Regions from separate parts of the Homo sapiens genome. Here region 2 is linked to region 1. Evidence: fine-mapped expression QTL. A gene starts in region 1. The other region holds a variant in brackets. All regions are shown on one strand. Distances are from middle to middle.

Region 1 (10,322 bases):
CTGTAATCACTCACTCTTGTTCACAGATTGAAATCCTGTGGGTACAATCACTGATACACTTCCCTCTCCAGGACCTTCAGTGCTCCTCACCACACCCACACACATCCACACCCTGCTAGCCTCCACCCACTTCTGAAGGAGGAAGAGACACTAGGTCTTCATGGCACCTGTACCTGCTCTCCCCTCATTGCCACTGATCACTGACTCCAGTATAGAACAAAGATGGGTGGGGGAAAGAGACTGAAAAGCGCCATCAAAACCTGGCACATGGCCGGGCATGGTGGCTCATGCCTCTAATCCCAGCACTTTGGGAGGCTGAGGCAGGTAGATCACAAGGTTAGGAGTTCAAGACCTGCCTGGCCAAGATAGTAAAACCCCATCTCTACTAAAAATACAAAAATTAGCCGGGCATGGTGGCAGGCACCTGTAATCCCAGCTACTCGGGAGGCTGAGGCAGAGTACTGCTTGAACCTGGGAGGCAGAGGTTGCAGTGAGCCGAGATCGCGCCACTGCACTCCATCCTGGGCAACAGAGCTAGACTCCATCTCAAAAAACAAAACAAAACAAAAAAAACACCTGGCACATGGGGGCCTACCTTTCTTTTGTCACTCAATTTCCCTAGAGTCACCCAGATCTTGCCTCTCAGATAACCAAACTTGGACTCACCCTCCTCCCTTAAGTGCCCAGTGCCAGAGGTGGAACCATCTATTCATGCTCCTCCACTCAGGCTTTGGATGGCACCTCCCTCATGTATCCAACACCTCCACTCTTGGCAACACTAACAACCACCACAGCCCAACTGGGAGTATTTCCATGGCGTGTTACCATGCCACTCTGCACATGAAATCCTGCAGTGCATGACAAATGCAACCAGAATCGTATTTGCCCCTAGAATGACCAGAATGCAATGTTTAGGAAACATTGCTTTGAACGTCTCCCAACCCAATCCTGTTTCTTTCTTTGACCTCAGCTTTCCAAACCCACATATTCTTGCACACCTCCTTTGAGTTCCAGATCTTGGCTGTCTCCCCCTTCTACATGTATATGTTGTCCCATAAGCAGTCACGACTTTCTCTATCCCCCAACTCTAATCCAAAGCCCAGATACACTGACCTCCCCAACACCATCCCCACCCCAGGACTAGCAATGCTTCTAGATGATCCCATCTTCTGCCAAAATAGTCTCAGAGTTCGCGTGAAACTACCCAGGTACAACCAATATTTGCCACAAAACCCTGTTGAGTCCATAATAGGGTACTAAGCCCCTCCCAGACCTCACTATCATCTCACCTCTTTTGTGGAGATGCCTCACCATCCAACTTTTATGTGCACTCTCCCCCTCAAAAGCCTTTATTTTCCAAAGGCCATCTCCAACATAAACACACAAATACACACACACATATCCTCAGTCCATCCACTCCCTCATCTGTCTTTGTGATGCCCAGCAACCCCATCCAGGTGCCCAACAGAAAGATCCAGTCCTCAGCCCCTTCCTTCCCCTTCCTTCTCCCTAACAGCATTGCCTCCAGAATCTAAAGATGTCTATTCCTAAATCTGACCCACAGATTTACCATGGTGTACACGCTGGCTATCATATAGTAGATGTCTCCATCCTGAACACCTCCATTGAACTCCATTCCTGTGTGTTCAACTGCCAGTCTGGCACCTCTACTCGAGTCTCTGGAACATTTTTGACTTAGCCCAAACCTCGTTCTTCATATGCTCTATTAAACTCCCCCTACTACAAAATTTACCACATCTTAGTTGCTGGAACATCCAACCTTCTCAACAAGGCCAAAACAATGGGGCCATTCCTGACTCCCTCTTGCATCCTACCTCCCGAGCTTCCTCGCTCTGTACATCAAAAAATGTGAGCAGCTCTAGATCAAAACCTACAGAAGCCACCCACCCCTCCCACCTCCACAGCCGCCACTCGTGTCCAGCCACCACCAACCTCCACTGGACTGTGGCAGGAATTATCACCCAGGTATCCTTGGTTCTTCCCTAACTCTCACTCTGTCCTCCATTCTGCAGGCAGAGGAAGCCTCTTAGAATCTAGGTCAAATCTGGCTGGGTGCAGTGGCTCAGGCCTGTAATTCCAGCACTTTGGGAGGCTGAGGCGGGCAGATCATGAGGTCAGGAGATCGAGACCATCCTAACACGGTGAAACCCTGGCTCTACTAAAAAATACAAAAAAAAGTTAGCCGGGCATGATGGCAGGTGCCTGTAATCCCAGCTACTTGGGAGGCTGAGGCAGGAGAATGGCGTGAACCCAGGAAGCGAAGCTTGCAGTGAGCCGAGTTCACGCCACTGCACTCTGGCCTGGGCGACAGAGGGAGACTCCGTCTCAAAAAAAAAAAAAAAGAATCTAGGTCAAATCACCTCTTTTTTCTTTCTCAAACCTTCCCTAGCTACTACCCCCCTCAGATTAAAGACCTAGAACCACTGGGCACGGTGGCTCATACCTGTAATCCCAGCACTTTGGGAGGCTGAGGCAGGCAGATCACTTGAGGCCAGGAGTTCGAGACCAGCCTGGCCAACATGGTGAAATCCTGTCTCTACTAAAAATACAAAAATTAGCTGGGTGTGTTGGTTCATGCCTGTAATCCCAGCTACTTGGAAGGCTGAGGCAGGAGAATTGCTTGAACCTGGGAGACAGAGGTCGCAATGATCCGAGATCACATCAATGCACTCCCGCCTGGGCGACAGAGTTAGCCTCTGTCTGGAAAAAAAAAAAAAAACAAGGCCAGGTGTGGTGGCTCAAGCCTGTAATCCCAGCACCTTGGGAGGGCCGAGGCAGGCAGATCACGAGGTCAAGAGATTGAGAACATCCTGGCCAACATGGTGAAACCCCATCTCTACTAAAAAATACAAAAATTAGCCGGGCATGGTGGCGGGTGCCTATAATCCCAGCTACTCGGGAGGCCGGGGCAGGAGAATCGCTTGAACCAGGAAGGCGGAGGTTGTAGTGAGCTGAGATCGCGCCACTGCACTCCAGCCTGGAGACAGAGCAAGATTCTGTCTCAAAAACAAAACAAAACAAAAACAAAAACCTAGACAACCTCAGGCTGCCATTCCATGCCTGATCCCTGCATGCCCCGACCTCCTGCCCTGCTGCTGTGCTCCTTATCCTTGCCAGCTAGAACATTAAGCTACAGTTCTCTAAGCATCCCATCTAAGTCTCACCACCAAGCATTTGAACATTCTAGATCCTGTGTTTGAGATGCCTTGCCAAATCTCAAACCATCAGTTGTGAGAACTAGAACCACTCTATATAACCAGGCACTGAGTTTGGAACCCAGGTCTGGTGGAACTACAGGCTCTCCTTGGACCCAAGGGAGAGAGAAGAAAAGGTGAACAGTCTCAGGATAACACCATTCCCTATATCAGCATGCTGAAACCATCTGGGATGGGTGAAAGCTGGAAACACTCTCCACTCACCTGTCCAGCATCCATAAGCATTGCTGCCACTGCTATGAACCCTGTGGGAAGAGGCAGGCCATGAGGATTAAGACAGCATTGCAGCATCCTACAGGCTGACTGTACAACCACCTCTGGCCCTGCAACTAGAGCAAAGTTATCTGAGGGTACACAGTAAGTCCTCAGGGTTCAGTGTCTTGATGAGGACTGAACTTCCTTAAGTCTCGGTGCCCTTATGTGTAAAATAGAGATTAAAAGGATTGCCAACTAATAGGGCTTATATGGGCATCAAATATAAGTAGTACACACTATGTATCAGCAATTTCTTTCTACTGGATTAAATATTTTTTACATGTTTTCGGTACAAATGACATGGAAGGGTTTTGAAATTTTGGGTGTGTATTTTTCCCACTTCTTACGGTGTTAAGGAAATGTGATACATAAAACTTTCCATTGCAAGCAAATAGAAAAATTAACATTCAGCCGGGCATGGTGGCTCAAGCCTCTAATCCCAGCACTTTGGGAGGCCGAGGTGGGCGGATCACGAGGTGCAGAGATCAAGACCATCCTGGCCAACCATGGTGAAACCCTGTCTCTATCAAAAATACAAAAATTAGATGGGCATGGTGGCGCATGTCTGTAATCCCAGCTACTCGGGAGGCTGAGGTAGGAGAATCGCTTGAACCCGGGAGGCAGAGGTTGCAGTGAGCCGAGACCACGCCACTGCACTCCAGCCTGGCGACAGAGCGAGACTCCGTCTCAAAAAAAAAAAGAAAAAAGAAAAATCAACATTCAACAATTATTAAGTGAATAAATTTAACTATTGGTTACATTCATTTCTAACTGCCGACCTATGTGTACATATTTAGAAGGATACTGGTTCATTAGTGGTTAAATAAATGTTTTATACATTCGGCCGGGCGCGGTGGCTCATGCCTGTAATCCCAGCACTTTGGGAGGCTGAGGCGTGCAGATCATGAGGTCAGGAGATAGAGACCATACTAGCTAACACGGTGAAACCCCGTCTCTACTAAAAATGCAAAAAATTAGCCTGGCGTGGTGGCGGGCACTTGTAGTCCCAGCTACTCGGGAGGCTGAGGCAGGAGAATTGCTTGAACTCGGGAGGCGGAGCTTGCAGTGAGCCGAGATCGCGCCACTGCACTCCAACCTGGGCGATGGAGCGAGACTCTGTCTCAAAAAAAAAAAAAATGTTTTACACATTCATAAATAAATAAGTTGCAGGGAGGGGATAAGCAAGCAGGTCAGTTACTGGTCCCATCAGCAACCAGGCCTGCCTGCTACAAATTCAGTTGCTGGAAGCTTGCTGGAGGCCCTTGACTAGATGTGAGAAAGCCCTACCCCCGTCTGGACCCAATGTCCCCACTAGTCTGGATGACCTTCCTATTGTTCCACAGAGTGGGCCTGGGGGGCTGCTGGGTCTGCAGGTGCAGAAATCTAAACCACCTCACACCTCAGTCTCCAGCCTAGGCCAGTTCCTTAACCCATTCAGAACTCCGTTTTTGCAGATATGAGCCAGAATCCCTCCTATGACAGGTCTGCGCCTTTCTAAAGGTAGCGTCAGGCTTATGGACCCACCCATGATCTGCCCTCCAAAACTCAGCCCTCCAAAATGCAACTCATAATCCTCTCTGAAACCTGCTCCCTAAGCTGACTTCTCCAACTCCATTCTTTCAGATTTTCAGGCCAAAACAAAATCCATGGAATAGACCCTTCACTACCCTCACTGCTACATTTGATGCAGCAGGAAATCCTGTCGACTCTATCTCTGAGATCCATCCAGAATCTCATCACACTTCCCCTCTACTGCAACCCCTCTGGCCCATCCCTACCATAACTCAAGGGGTCTCCTCAGCGGTCCCCTTGTCCTGGTTTAACATCCTGTTTTTCCCAACTTTAAACGTCTACCTCTGGGCATAACCCTTCCTGCACAGCCTTCTACGGCTTTCAGCAGCTCCGCTGCCCTCCCAGGCGAGACTCCGCCTCACCCTCAGCTCCGTGGAGACAAAGACGCTCGGGCTCCCCAGTGCCGCCCGCTCTGCAGCACCTCTAAGCCTCGCACGTGCAGGTCCCTGACAGGAGCTCCCCCGCCTCACAGCACCGCGGACACCGGTACCCCACACAAGAACGCTCCTCTCTTTGGGACACAGGGGCCTGACCTGCAGGGCCCCTCCTCGGGGCTTCGGCACTCGGAGGAGGGATCGGGCGGGGCGCCCTGGGACGCGGCACCCACCTCAGTCAGGTTCATCGGCGCAGCCTCCGCCAGCACAGCCAGGGAAGAGCGGGGCGGGAGCGGCAGTGACCTGGACGCTGACAGAGGCACCAACGCCTGCAACCGATTCAACCGAGCCTCACTCTAGCCTCTGTACAACGGGGAAACCTTTTCTCGCGTTTTTCCGCTTTTTCACCTCAGTCTCGACTCAGCCTGAAGGTGAACAGATCCCAACGCAGCCATATTGACAACCCCAGGAGGCGTTGCAGGAAGTCCCGCCCACACGCATTGCGAACCCCCGTAGACGCCGCTCTGCTAGGCCTTCATTGGCTACACTCGCTGCTTGTGTCCGCCGCTGTGTCTTTTGGGTAATGTAGTTCCCAGGCCACTGCCTGCCCCGCTTCTGAACTTAAGTTAACTCGCGTTCAGGATGAAAGCCAGGAGGATCCTCCTGAGGCTTTGAGAAATGCAGTTGCGGGGCTCCAAGGACGTGGAGGGGCTTCATTGGCTTTTAAACGGCAAGCATCCAGATTTTCCCGGAAGGCAGTCTAGAACAAGTCAGAGAAATGTTTCAGAGACCTGTCCTTTCAGATTCTGTAAAGCACAGCAAGTTCCCAAAAGACGAACATCCGAAGGAACATGGCCAACCATAAAGAACTGGTCTTCCACGCATAGCGGTCAGCTCTTTTGTGCTTGCCAAATACACACAGAACGAAGCTCTGGAGACTGTTTTATGATCTTCAATGTGCTCTGCTGGGCACATTGAAAAGACCCAGACATGGCATGATGGGGAGTTTGAGGAGTAATATCTTTCCTTTCTGAATAATCAGTTATTGTCTTTCAGCCTACCCAGCAACACTTTATTCACATGATACTTATTACTTTATATCTGAGATATTTTCCACTTATTTTAAGAGACTGAAACCTAACTGAAAAGGAAAAGCGACTTATCTACCATTATCTGCCAGAATAGTGTGGCCTTCCACCAGTCAAAGCCCTTGTGCAAAGAAAGCATCTTACTCCTGAGATAAAGGTTTGGGAATGCATGATCTCATCTCATTAGTGGAAAGTGATTTATCATTTCGCCTGAAATTGTATCAACAGTGTCTGCACAGGGAGTTGAAATTGTCTCTGAATAACTCTTGTGAAATGGCTATTACTGAAACTATTAATGACGATTATGTAGATATCCAAAGAAAGTGGCAAAAATAGTTATAGAGAAACATATTTGTGATAGGAGGAAAAAAGCTAAGGTTGTCCTGGAACCTTGGACACACTCAAGTTTGGTGTCCAAAATCTGATTCTTTTTCAAACTTGAAAACATTGTGCATTAACAGCTTGAAGGGAGAGGTAAAGACTATATATTAAAAGAGTTACCAGAAAAGTAAAGCTGAATAGGGAAACTGTGCTGTCGTATTTATTACTCTAACATATTTGATGAACACTCATTCGATGCCAGGTACAATACTAAGTGCATGGGACACATTAGGAGTAGGGTTGCTAGCTGTCTGTGGTCCTCTAAGACACGTAAGACGTATTTAATGAATTAGTCCTCAGTCCTGTATTGACCTTGTCAGGTCACTTTAAATGTCCTGTATTCCGCTTTTTACAATAAATTACAAAACCTCAGAAGTTAGAGCTATTTTTCTACCACTATAATTGTAAATTAAATCACTTAGCAGCTATGTTAGCTGAAAATCATACCCCCACAAATAAAGATATGGACATAGTCTTGTGATCTCTCCTGCAGAATTGGTGAGGGAAAAATAAAATGGAGCACTGAGATATTCAGTAAAGGAGAAGACTGTTTTTTGGCCAAAGTCTTGAAATTTGGTTTATCAAATTACAAAAAGAAGGAAGGAAGGAGAGAGAAAGAAGGAAACGAAAGGAAAAGAAAAAACCACCCAACTGAAGGTCTGGAAGAGTTAAAGCTGTTCAGTAGTGCCAGCTACATGGAAGTTAAGACGGGAGGATTACTTGAGTTCATAAGTTCAAAACCAGTTTGGGCAATATAGTGAGATCCCCGTCTCTGAAAAAACTGAAAATTAAAAACATGTTAATCATTTACCAACAATACATCCCTACCATCCTACAATTCTATTTCTAGATATTTACCAACAGAAACTAAACAAACTTTTTTTTTCTTTTTTTGAGATAGAGTCTCTCTCTGTCGCCCAGGCTGGAGTGCAATGGCACGATCTCGGCTCACGGCAACCTCTGCCTCCCAGGTTCAGGCGATTCTCCTGCCTCAGCCTCCTGAGTAGCTGGGATTACAGGCATGGCCACCACGCCTGGCTGATTTTTGTACTTTTAGTAGAGACGGGGTTTCACCATGTTGGCCAGGCTGGTCTTGAACTCCTGGCCTCAGGTGATCCACCCGCCTCAGCCTCCCAAAGTGCTGGGATTACAGGCATGAGCCACCTCGCCTGGCCCAAACATCCATCTAACACTTGGTGACAGGCCACATATCTTTGTGTATGTGTATGTATATATATATATATATATGGAGAGAGGGAGAGAGAGAGAGTCTCGCTCTGTTGCCCAGGCTGGAGTGCAGTCACACGATCTCAGCTCACTGCAACCTCTGCCTCCTGGGTTCAAGCAATTCTCCTGCCTCAGCTCCCGAGTAGCTGGGACTACAGGTGTGCACCACCACACCTGGCTAATTTTTGTATTTTTAGTAGAGACAGGGTTTCACCATGTTGGCCAGGCTGGTCTTGAACTCCTGACCTCATGATCCACCCGGCTTGGCCTCCCAAAGTGCTGGGATTACAGGCATGAGCCACCATGCCCAGCCCTTTCAACATATTTTATTAGGTGTTTCGCTACCTTTTGAAATTCCACTTTCATGTAATGAGCGGCTGTATGGTGACAATGGCCCAGGAGGCTCTGGACAGTGAGTGGACATTCTCTCCTTATGTCCCCACAAGGACCTCGTCTTGTTCAATGTTCCGACGTGTTTCCACTCATTCCTGTTCCTCACACTTCATCACCCCACCACTTGTAGACAACAATTCTAAAGGTCTGTTGTGTGTTTTTGTATTTACATGTGTTTTAGAAAGAGGAGCACTGTTACTTTTTGTGTAGTTTAATTGTACTGTACTATAGACTTCTTTCTCCCTTTGTTGGTACTCAAAATGTGTGTTTAATATGTATATATACTCCTGTGTCAAAGTCTACTTAAATGCTAGTAACTGCCCTGTTGTACTTTAGTGTGGACATTCAGTCTTCTACTTCACTCATAGATGTCTTTGGTCCTCCTCTTACACTTAATGCTACAACATATTGTCTCCATGTCCCTGCTGCCTTGAACAGTATTGTGAGAAAACTTCTCTCACATAAGAATTTATGGACTTGACTGAGAGATATACCAGAAACAGGCTTTCTGTGTCACATGATATTCTAGAAAATCATTTTTTTTACAGTACCTGTGCAGATTGCTTTATGAAACTGCTACAGTCTTTGACTCTTCCATGAAATATACATGATTGCAGCTACATCACCCCATATTTCTTTCCATAGTATAGTAATTTATAGAACTTAAAGTAACATGCAATAATATCTAATTTGCATTTCTCTGACACCGAGTTTGAATATCCATTCATATTCTTGATAACCATCTGATTTTTCTCTCTTGTTTATTGTATGCTCGTGCTTTAGTTCATTTCTAAGATCTCTGACTTTATTCCTTTAAGAAGAATCTGAAACTTTGGCTGGGCACAGTGGCTCATGCCTGTAATCCCAGTACTTTGAAAGGTGGAGGTGGAAGGATCATTTGAGTCTAGGAGTTCGAGACCAGCCTGGGCAGTATAGTGAGATCCCCGTCTCTACCAAAAAAGTTAAAAATTAGCCAAGCATGGTAGTGCGCACTTGTAGTCCCAGCTACTGGGGAGGCTGAATGGGAGGATTGCTTGAACCTGAGAGGTGGAGGCTACTGTGAGTGAAGATCACGCCACTACACTCCATCCTAGGTGAAAGAGACCCTGTCTCAATAAAAAAGCAAAAAAATCTAAAACTCGCATGCCTAAAACCGTAAAACTGGGCACATTTAGATATTTTAAATGTCTTCTCTGAGTCCCTGAACTCACTCAGTTTTGACTCATAATCTTTATGAAATAGAAAGCTTGAAATTTAGATGTAATTATATTAATTTGTTTTTTCATGTAACATTTTGTGCACTCTGGGATCAAAGAAAGACTTATCAGAGGGTAAATTCTGAGATCATTTTGTAGGTCTCACTCCAAAATTGTTTCCTTTCCATTTTCTATTTCTTACTCCCTGTTGACCTTTGTTAATTTTAATTTTTTCTGACATGAGTAGCTTAGTTGGAGGATAATATGAGATGGTGCTTATGAATGCTCCTAACTCCGGGCATGTCACATCATAGGTATTAAATATAAATAAAGTTTTTCCCTCTGTTCTTTCTGTATTATTGTATCTTCATTTCTTTTTCTTCTCTCTCCTTTTCTTTAAACTCCTAGTTTTGCCTGTTTTTTTCCCCATACTCTACCTTTAATCAGTAGGAGACAAAAATTCTAAACATCCCATTCTCAATTGCAAAATAAACTTTTAAAATCCCCCAGAGATTGCACAACCTAGTCCACCAAGTGAAACACCTGAGCACTCCTAGGGCGCTGAGGTTAGGCCTAAATACCCTACTGCACCCACTTCAG
Region 2 (10,322 bases), 50 kb after region 1:
ACTTTTCACAAGTACAGGCATCAACAGTTGATTGTCTGAGGGAAAGGAAATATAAGAATATAAAGTGACAGAAGCAACACACTTCACTGTGGCCTGGAACTGCTCCCAGCCTCCTATTTTACAAACATGATTCAGGTTCTCACATTATAGCAAGATCACTATTCCTAGCCTCTGGCAGAAGCAGACATGTGACACTTAGCACTGCACAAGTGTTTCTTTGGCTTCTTGAGTAGTGCTATGTATACTGCCAATACATTTTTATAACATCTCTAAATGCATAACGTCCACGTATGTGCTATGACATTTCACTTCCAATGGCAGAATATTTTAGTTTTAAATCTATCTACCAAATCTTGACTATGACATTTGTTTCTGGATTGTTATAAGATCAACCTATCTGGGCCGGGTATGGTGGCTCACACCTGTAATCCCAGCACTTTGGGAGGCTGAGGCAGGAGAATCGCTTGAAGTCAGGAGGCAGAGGTTGCAGTGAGCCAAGCGCCACTGCACTCCAGCCTGGACGACAGAGCAAAACTCCACGTCAAAAAAAAAAAAAAAAAAAACAATTTATCTGAATTGGGCAAGTCGAAAGCTTATTCCCAGCCAGGCGCAGTGGCTCACACCTGTAATCCCAGCACTCCGGGAGGCCGAGGCAGGCAGATAACCTGAGGTCAGGAGTTCAAGACCAGCCTGGCCAAAATGGCGAAACCCTGTCTCTACTAAAAATACAAAAATTAGCCAGGCGTATGCCTGTAATCCCAGCTACTCTGGAGGCGGAAGGAGAACTGCTTGAACCCGGGAGGCAGAGGCTGCAGTGAGCCAAGATCGTGCCACTGCACTCCAGCCTGCATGACAGGAGCAAGACTCCATCTCAAAAACAAAAAAACAAAAACATACACACACACACAAAAAAGCTTATTCCCAATTTTTAAGTAAAAAATATTTCATGGCCAGGCGCAGTGGCTCACACCTGTAATCCCAGCACTTTGGGAGGCCGAGGCGAGCGGATCACGAGGTCAGGAGTTCAAGACCAGCCTGACCAATATGGTGAAATCCCGTCTTTACTAAAAATACAAAAATTAGCCAGGCGTGGTGGTGCATGCCTGTAATCCTAGCTACTTGGGAGGCTGAAGAAGGAGAATTGCTTGAACCCGGGAGGTGGAGGTTGCAGTGAGCCAAGATCGTGCCACTGCACTCCAGCCCCTGCACAACAGGAGCCAGACTCCATCTCAAAAGAAAAAAAAAAAAGAAAGAAAGAAAGAAAAAGAAAGCTTATTCCCAATTTTTAAGTAAAAATATTTCATGGCCGGGAGTGGTGGCTCATGCCTGTAATCCCAGCACTTTGGGAGGCCGAGGCAGGCAGATCACGAGGTCAGGAGTTCAAGACCAGCCTGACCAACATGGCGAAACTCCGTCTCTACTAAAAATACAAAAAAAATTAGGCAGGCATGGTGGTGGGAGCCTGTAATCCCAGCTACTCGGGAGGCTGAGGCAGAATTGCTTGAACCTGGGAGGCGGAGGGTGCAGTGAGACGAGACTGTGCCACTGCACTCCAGCCTGGGCAACAAGAGCAAAACTCCGTCTCAAAAAAAAAAAAAAAAGAAAGAAATTAATTATTATTGATAATGAGTTCTTTATAAATAACATTGTTCACAAGGAAATACTAATTGATCTACTGATATGTGACATGAGACAGAATGTACTATTTTTAAATATAAAAGAAATTTCATTAAGTTTAGATAAGCTGAGAATACACAAAAGATTTCCAGGCTATTTAATCAAGTAATTTACAATGTACACATTCCTGAGTATACACCATTGTGGTGATATAATTTATTTTGGAATTTTCTCCATTCAGCTTAAAAGGTGTTTCTTCCCAAGAAACTGAACTTTTCTGTCAAATGCACTTGATCGAATAGGAGAATTGGGTTCATAAAATGGATTCATTGAAAATTTTATATATAAATCATAAACATCAGTAAAGAAGTTCTTTATTCCATCTTCTTGTCTTATGTCATGAAGCATAATAAACCTCATATGCCCCGCGGTGACAAATGCTGACACAAACCACTCGTTGAACTTGTCCACAGTTTTCAAGTACATGTTGTTCGACAGCCACATGTTCTCATCTACGAGGTCGAGAGCAGCATGAGCTATGAACTGGTTCAGATGACGATGGTCGTCTTTGGATTCTGCCTTCCCAGCTGGCAAAAACTCCATTTCAAAAACTGGATTATCATGGTGACCAACAATTACAAAGTAGAAGCTTCCAGACATGGTCTTCAATATATGGCTCCTGCAGCGGGAGGCCGACAACGGAAACGCAATGTCAGTTTCCGCGGAAGAGACCCGCGCTCCGCACCTTTTTTTGACACGGAATCTCGCTCTGTCGCCCAGGCTGGAGTGCAATGGCGCGATCTTGGCTCACTGCAATCTCCACCTCCTGGGTTCAGGCAATTCTCCTGCCTCAGCCTCCCGAATAGCTGGGATTACAGGCGCGCGTCACCACCCCCGGCTAATTTTTGTATTTTTACTAAAGACGGGGTTTCACCATGTTGGTCAGGCTGGTCTTGAACGCCTGACCTTGTGATCCGCTCGCCTTGGCCTCCCAAAGTGCTGGGATTACCGGCGTGAGCCACCACGCCCGGCCACCCTCTATTCTTTTGAAGAATCTACACCAGTTCTCCTCTGTAGACTCCACACCTTTCTGTCCCCCTACCCATGTGACATTTTCAACTTGAGACGCCTGAGAATCACACTGGCCAAACTCCAACCCATGATCTTCTCCATGAAACCTACTTCTCATGCTGCTGACTTCCCCAACTTCATTCTTTCAGATGTTCGGGCAAAAAAAAAAAAATGACCCTTCACTCCCTATTTTTGCTCACAGACATATCTGATACGGCAGGAAAACCTGTTGGCTCTATCTTCCAGGTCTATCCAGAATCCCATCACATTGTCCCTCTTATACCACGGCTCTGGTGCAGCCTCTGGGATCCACTGCAGTGGCCTCTTCTGGGTCTCTCTGTGTCAATTCCCCATCCTGCTCGTTCTAACTCTGGACCTGCCCCTCCCACTGGTCTTCCCTTGACAACCTTCCATGGTTATACCGGCTGCTCAGGCTGCCATTCCAAGAGAAAATTCACAAAACCCTCTCTTTCCCGCAGAAACAACCCACACTCCGGGCTCCCCGACGCGGCCCACTTGGCAGCACCTCCATGCTCTGAACCTGAGATCCCCGAAGGGAGCTCTGAGGCTGCATCAAACCAGCTGATACGGGGACCCCACACAGGAACGCCCCTCTCTTCGAGACAAGGGGCCTGACCTGCAGGGCCCCTTCTATGGGCTTCAGCACTGGAAGGAGGGGTCGGGCGGAGGTGGGGGGGGGCCTGGGACGGGGCACCCACCTCGGGTTCTTCGGCGGGGACTCCGCAAGTCCAGCCAGGGAAGAGAGGGGCGGGGGCGACAAAGGCAAGACAAGGACACCGCCGTCCCCAGTCCTTGTCAGCTGAGCTTCTGCCACTGTCAGTTGTGCCTGTGTCACTACCGCCTCTGCGTACAAGGAACCAAGCCGCTTCTCGCGCTTTTCCGCTCCGTCACTTCGGTGACGTCATAGAGCGCCAAAGGCCGGAACTAGTGAAAACACCAGAGAAAATCAAATCAACCACGGCAAGAGGACGCCGGAAGTCCCGCCCTCCTACGATGCGCGAGCACGAGGACGGACGCACGCACGCACGCACGCACGCAAAGGTTCCTTCCTGCACATTCATTGGGTCAGTCGCGCTGCCGAGAACCGCAGTGTCTTCTGGGTTATGAAGTTTCGACACCGCTTCTGGACTTGCCTTAGAGCGTTGGTCAGTCCTTATATGGCGGATAGAGGCTCAGTGGCACCGTCAGGGGAGCTGGTAAACAGAGTGCCGGACTCCACGGACAGGACGGGGCTTGGGTTGCTCTTAAAGGCGACATAACCAGATTTTCTTGAAGTAAGGTCTAGGATACTCACAGAAATGTGAGGGACCTATGATATCGGATTGTGAAGCACAGCAAGTTCTCAACGGCTACACCGCCAAAGGGACACACTATACCACAAAGGCACTCTGTCTCTACTCATGCCTCTCAGCCATATGTTGCTTTTCAAATACACATACAGTTAAACTTTGACTTCTATTTATTAAGCTTCAATATGGTTGGTCCAAGAGAACAAAGAAAGACTACATGGCTGGGAATTTGCACAAAAGAAGACAGGAGATACCGACGTAGATTGAAAGGGTGACGCTGTGCCTCTGGATCCAGAAGAAAACATCATTACTGTCTGTAGAGTCAGTGATTGTGTTCCTACCAAGAGTGCAATGCTTTTATTCTAATAATACTTATTACTTCATGTCTGAAATATTTTACATTTATTTTAAAAGTCTCAATCCTGTCTGAAAATGAGAGTGACTGATACATGCCATTTCCTGACAGGACATTTTGTGCCATTCCATAGTTGGAGTATATGTACACAGGGAACGTATTATCCCCAATAAAAACTGTGAACTTTCATGATCTTATCTCCTTCCTGAGAAGTGAGTTATCATTTTACAGGGAGTTGAAATTATCTGTGAAAATACTTGTGAAATGAAAATTACAGAAATCTATTAATAATAACTGTTAGGTTTTGAAGGGAAGGCGAGGGTTAAAGAAAGGCAGAGTTGGCAGCTCTACAGCAATGCAGGTTTTATGTCCAGCACGAGACCTGTGATGGGGAGAACTAGCTTAGTGCCAGAACCCCTCACTGCTTACAGGCTGGGGCAATTATAGGCCTGGATGAGAGGGGTCAGGGGTGGGGGGCAGGGGGCGCGGCGGGAGGGTATGACTTGCTGCCCAGGAGGATGGTGGGTTTTTTTTTGTTTTTGGAGGAGTCTCGCTCTTGTCGCCCAGCCTTGAGTGCAATGGCGTGATCTCGGCCCACTGCAACCTCCGCCTCCCGGAGTTCAAGCGATTCTTGAACTCCGCCTCCCGAGTAGTTGGCTTTACAGGCGCGTGCCACCACGCCCGGCTAATTTTTTTGTATTTTTAGTAGGGACAGGGTTTCACCATGTTGGTCAGGCCAGTCTGGAATTCCTGACCTCAGGTGATCCGCCCGCCTCGGCCTCCCAAATTGCTGGGATTACAGGCGTGAGCCACAGCACCCGGCCAAAGGATGTGCGTAAGATGTTCCTGAGGCAGTTTGGCCTTTTATCCGGCAGGATGTGATAGTGACCTTCCTTGGATCTTTTCCCAGAACGATGTGATAAGAAAGTCAGGCAGTTGGGCAGGATGTTTCTCAAGGCCCTCACTCCGTGGAATGCTTCACTCTGACCAAGGTCTGTGAGATGGCAGGGGGCTTACAGGATGGTGCAGTTTGGACTAACAGTGATTATGTTATTTCAAAACTAGTGGCAGAAATAGTCCTACAGAAATCTCTCTGTGACATGTGAAGGGGGGAAAAAGCAAGGTTACAGTAGAGTTTGAGCAAGAGTCTGAGAAGTCAAAGAATGAAGTTGAGACTGGCTGTGCTGGAACCTGGACACATTATGCTTCTGTCTCCTATATGTATTTCTTATTTCATACTTGAAAACATCGCTTATTAACTGTTTGGAGGGATAGAGATAACAAATGGAAACACTTGTCAAAAAATAAAAATGAAGGCCGGGTGCGGTGGCTCACGCCTGCAATCCCAGCAATTTGGGAGGCCGAGGTGGGCGGATCACGAGGTCAGGAGCTCAAGACCAGCCTGGCCAACATAGTGAAACCCTGTCTCTACTAAAAATACAAAAATTATCTGGGCATGGTGGCGGGTGCCTGTAATCCAAGCTACTTGGGAGGCTGAGGCAGGAGAATCGCTTGAACCCAGGAGGTGGAAGTTGCAGTGAGCAGAGATCGCGCCACTGCACTCCAGCCTGGGTGACAGTGCAAGACTCCGTCTCGAAAAATAAAAATAAAAATGAGTAGGCAATCTGTGTGATGATGTGTATTTACTGCTCTACAAAATGTTCAATGAGCACGTACAAACTGGGTTTCAGGTCAATGGTAGGTATATGGGACACACCGGGAATAGGGCTGCCAGCTGCTGTGTGTATACAGGACTGTTATGTGTTTCCTTAGATTCTGTATTTGTCTTTTTGGT[A/G]TTCATAAATCACAGGTTCAAGCTAACAGCCAAAGTTGTTAACTTCTCTGTCTGCAAGCCACTTACTCAGAGGTGTGTGAAACTCACATAAAAAAACCCCAGCCAGGCTGGGCGCAGTGACTCACACCTGTAATCCCAGCACCTTGGGAGGCCGAGGCAGACAGATCACCTGAGGTCAGGAGTTCGAGACCAGCCTGGCCAACATGGCGAAACCCCATTTCTGCTAAAAATACAAAAATTAGCTGGGCATGGTGGCGGGTGCCTGTAGTCCCAGCTGCTTGGAAGGCTAAGGTGGGAGAATCGCTTGAACCCGGGAGGTGGAGGTTGCAGTGAGCCGAAATCATGCCACTGTACTCCAGCCTGGGCAACAGAGCAAGACTCCATTTCAAAACAAAACAAAACAACCCTGCCTTTAAAAAAGATACTTATTGTGTGTTATTAGGGAATTGCAAATAAAAGCAACAATGGCATACCACTACACACCTATTTGAATGGCATTTTAAAATCCAAAATACTGAAAATGCCAAATGCTGATTAGGATGAGATGCAAGAGGAATGTTCAATCATTGTTAGTTGGATGCAAAAATGGTACAGCCACAGCCCGTTGCAGTGGCTCACCCCCGTTATCCCAGCACTTTGGGAGGCCGAGGAGGGTGATCACTTGAGGTCAGGAGTTTGAGACCAGCCTGGCCAACATGGTAAAAACCCATGTCTACTAAAATAGGTGGAGGTTGCAGTGAACCAAGATCATACCACTGCACTCCAGCCTGGGTGACAGAGTGGAGACTCTGTCTCAAAAAATATATATAAATAAAATAAATGGTGCAGCCGCTTTGGAAGACAGCTTGGCAGTTTCTTACAAGACTAAACATGCTATATGACAGAGAAAATTGCACTCCTTGGCACATATCCAAATGAGTTGAAAACATCTCCACAGAAAAACTATACAAATATGTAGTAGGTTTATTCATAACTGCCAAAACTTGAAAGCAACCGTCCTTCAATAAGTAAATGGATAAAGAAACTGAGGTGTATTTATAGAATGGAATATCATTCAGCCATAATTTGCACACAAATCTTCAGAGGTTTATTTGTAATAGCCAAAAACTGAAAGTTACCCAAACATCCATAACAATTAAGTTGACAAAGAAGAAAAATTGTGGTATACAATGAAATACTGAAATACTACGCAGCAATACAAATGAGCAAACAATTGATTCATGCAACAAGATAATGGATTAACCTTAAAATAGTTATGTTTACTGAAAAAGCCAGAGCCCCACCCCCTAAAAAGTACACACCATATGGTTTCATTTATAAAATTATAGAAAATGCTTGCTGTTGCTTGTGAATTGTGGAAAACAAGATAAGGAAAAATTGAGGATTATAAAGGGACAATCTTTTGTTGTGTTGGATATCTTGACTGTGGTGGTTTCATAGGTGTACACACATGCTGAAACAGCACATTTTACACTTTACATATTTGCAGTTTATTGCATGTTAATCATACCTCCATAAAGCTATTAAATAAATGTTCCTCATTAAAATCTATATATACTGTTCCACTAGGAAAGTTAGATCTGTCAACTATTTTGGCTTTACCATATTCCTCTCCCTACAATTTAGGAGAGTGAGCCCTGCCTCAATGTTGGTAAAAATTGGTAAGCAATGATGTCCACATCCACCTCAGTCACTCGGAATGCTGGCTGGGTCAGAGAAGACCCATCCCTGGATCTCTCTTCTGTCACTGCTGAGGTTCCTGTCTGTGCAGGTCAACTGCCCAGGGAGACACAGGAATCCACAAACATTTAGATTATTTCCTCTGACAGTGGCCTTGGCCACAGGAGATACAGATGTCTGAAGGTCCTGAGAATTTCTATGCACTCCCATCCCACACCATCATAACTGCACCGAGACTTGTGGATGCCCCTCTAGAATGTTCGAATCTCCTTTTGTTTGCCACAGTCATCCCCACTCCATTATCTCAGTGCTTCTGTAGCAATCATGATTTTCACATTGCCCTACAGAGGTCTTACAGTCAATGTTACTTGCCTATGGGGTTCTGGATATCAGGGACTTGATCCTGTACAGGTACAGAAGACAGCAATCCCTCAACAGTGCTGGGGAGTACGTGACAGTTAAGGGACCCAACTTATGTTGCTTCCACAAGCACAGGAGATTTTCGCACCAACTATGCCCTCCTCACTGGGCTCACAGGAAATCCTGGCAGCCAGGCCACAAAGTTAGGCACAAAAATTTTTTCAGTCTTTCCTAGCAAGCCTAGGGCAATAGTGTAAATTAGGTCAAACTAGACTGAGAACAGTTTTCTGCCATCCTTTGGTCCCCTCTGAGGCACATAAAGGTGGTGCCCACAAAAGGTGCTACTCCCTTCATGACAGAACCCAATTCTTTTCTCAATCCACTCTACACAGTAACAAAATCCCCAAGAGTAAAGACTGCCACAATAGGCCCTTATCACTGTATAAATCAGAGCAGCATGGGACAAGCAGTTCCAAATTTGGGCGATTTGGCAGTAAGACAAGTAAGTCACAGCTATCACGTTTACAGTTAACATTGTCCATGAAGATGGAAAATCGTGTCAGGAAATCCCAGCAGACCCTAGCTCAGGTCCTTTTGGTGAGAGCTAGATCATGTTTGCTCAGAACCTAATCATGAGGGAAAAGATGAGGACCCTCAATGGTAGGGGGTGAAGTGGGGGGGGGGGGAAGTCCTTGAAAATATTCATGATTACCTGTAGGGAACAGGAAAGAAAGCACAGAAGTCTGCCTTCCCTGAGCAAAATGGAGTGATTGACACACACAGCTGGTAGCAATAAGATGGCTTCCGCCACAGGCACTGGCAGTGATATAATTCCATCAAGAGCTCTAGACAGTTACAAAGTGCAACACACCTCATGAAAGCCTCCCACATATGTGGTGCTTATCAGGAATCTCCCCAGGGTGGAATGAATATACGGTGCTCATCTGCTAGCTGATGGTTCCCTCACAAAGGGTACTCACAGAGCATTGCTCTGGTGTGAGTCCTATGAGGATGAACAAGATGACATATTTTCTGCATTCATAAGGCCTTTCTCTTGTGTGAATTTTCTGGTGTTAAACAAGTTTAAGAGATGCAGCTAAAGGGCCACCAAAACTGTTGCACTCGTGAGCTCTTTCTCCAGTGTGAGCTTTCTGGTGACGAACAAGATGGGAGCTTCTGCTATAGGCTTTCCCACATTCGCTGCATACGTAAGGCTTTTCTCCAGTGTGAACCCTCTGGTGCAGAATGAGGCCAGAGTTGCGGCTAAAGAATTTCCCACATTCACTGCACTCATAAGGTCTTGCTCCAGTGTGAACTTTCTTGTGTTGAACAAGGTGGGAGCTACTAATGTAAGCCTTCCCACATTCACTGCACACATAAGGCCTTGCTCCTGTGTGAACTCTCTGGTGCAAAATGAGGCTGGAGTTGTGGCTAAAGCATTTCCCACATTCATTGCACTCATAAGGCTTTGCTCCAGTGTGAATTCTCTGGTGTACAATAAGGTTGGAGCTATGGCTGAAGAATTTACCACATTCACCACACTCATAAGGCCTTTCTCCAGTGTGGATTTTTTGGTGTTGCACAAGTGTGTCTTTACGGCTGAAGGCCTTCCCACATTCACTGCACTCATAAGGCCTTGCTCCAGTGTGAATTATCTGGTGCTGAACAAGTGTGTCTTTGCAGCCAAAGGCCTTCCCACATTTGCTGCACACGTAGGATCTTGCTCCTGTGTGGACTCTCCGATGTTTAATGAGGCTAGAGTTATGGCTAAAGAATTTTCCACATTCTATGCATTCATAGGGCCTTGCCCCGGTATGAATTCTCCAGTGCTCAATAAGGTGGGAGCTTTGGCTAAAGAATTTTCCACATTCACTGCACTCATAAGGCCTTTCTCCAGTATGAAATCTCTGGTGCTGAACAAGTGTGTCTTTACGGCTAAAGGCTTTCCCACATTTGTTGCACTTATAAGGCCTTTCTCCTGTGTGAATTCTCTGGTGCTGAACAAGGTGGGAGCTTCTGCTGTAGGCTTTTCCACATTCACTGCAGTCATAAGATCTTTCTCCAGTGTGAACTCTCTGATGCTGAACAAGTGTGTCCTTGCGGCTGAAGGCCTTCCCACATTCACTGCATGTAT

What was found. PIP is the estimated chance that this variant, and not a neighbour inherited with it, causes the effect.
Region 2: its variant is the best candidate, but not a certain one, in a credible set for the expression of ZNF17 in whole blood (INTERVAL, PIP 0.80).

The regions. Positions count from the first base shown.
Region 1 is chr19:57,406,755-57,417,076 of GRCh38, reverse strand. It overlaps ZNF17 (zinc finger protein 17), which reads right to left and starts at 5,916. Exons shown (of 4, transcript NM_001330617.2): 1 at 5,671-5,916; 2 at 3,441-3,481. The coding sequence starts at 3,461. RefSeq lists a silencer at 5,217-5,419 and enhancers at 5,663-5,722, 5,803-5,912.
Region 2 is chr19:57,356,789-57,367,110 of GRCh38, reverse strand. It overlaps ZNF304 (zinc finger protein 304), which reads right to left. Exons shown (of 3, transcript NM_020657.4): 3 at 7,213-10,322. The coding sequence ends at 9,262. It overlaps ZNF547 (zinc finger protein 547), which reads right to left and starts at 3,560. Exons shown (of 4, transcript NM_173631.4): 1 at 3,408-3,560. It overlaps TRAPPC2B (trafficking protein particle complex subunit 2B), which reads right to left and starts at 3,560. Exons shown (of 2, transcript NM_001355204.2): 1 at 3,408-3,560; 2 at 1,706-2,296. The coding sequence starts at 2,277. The coding sequence ends at 1,855. RefSeq lists enhancers at 3,508-3,887, 3,928-4,007. The variant A/G (reference allele first, on the strand shown) is at 6,149.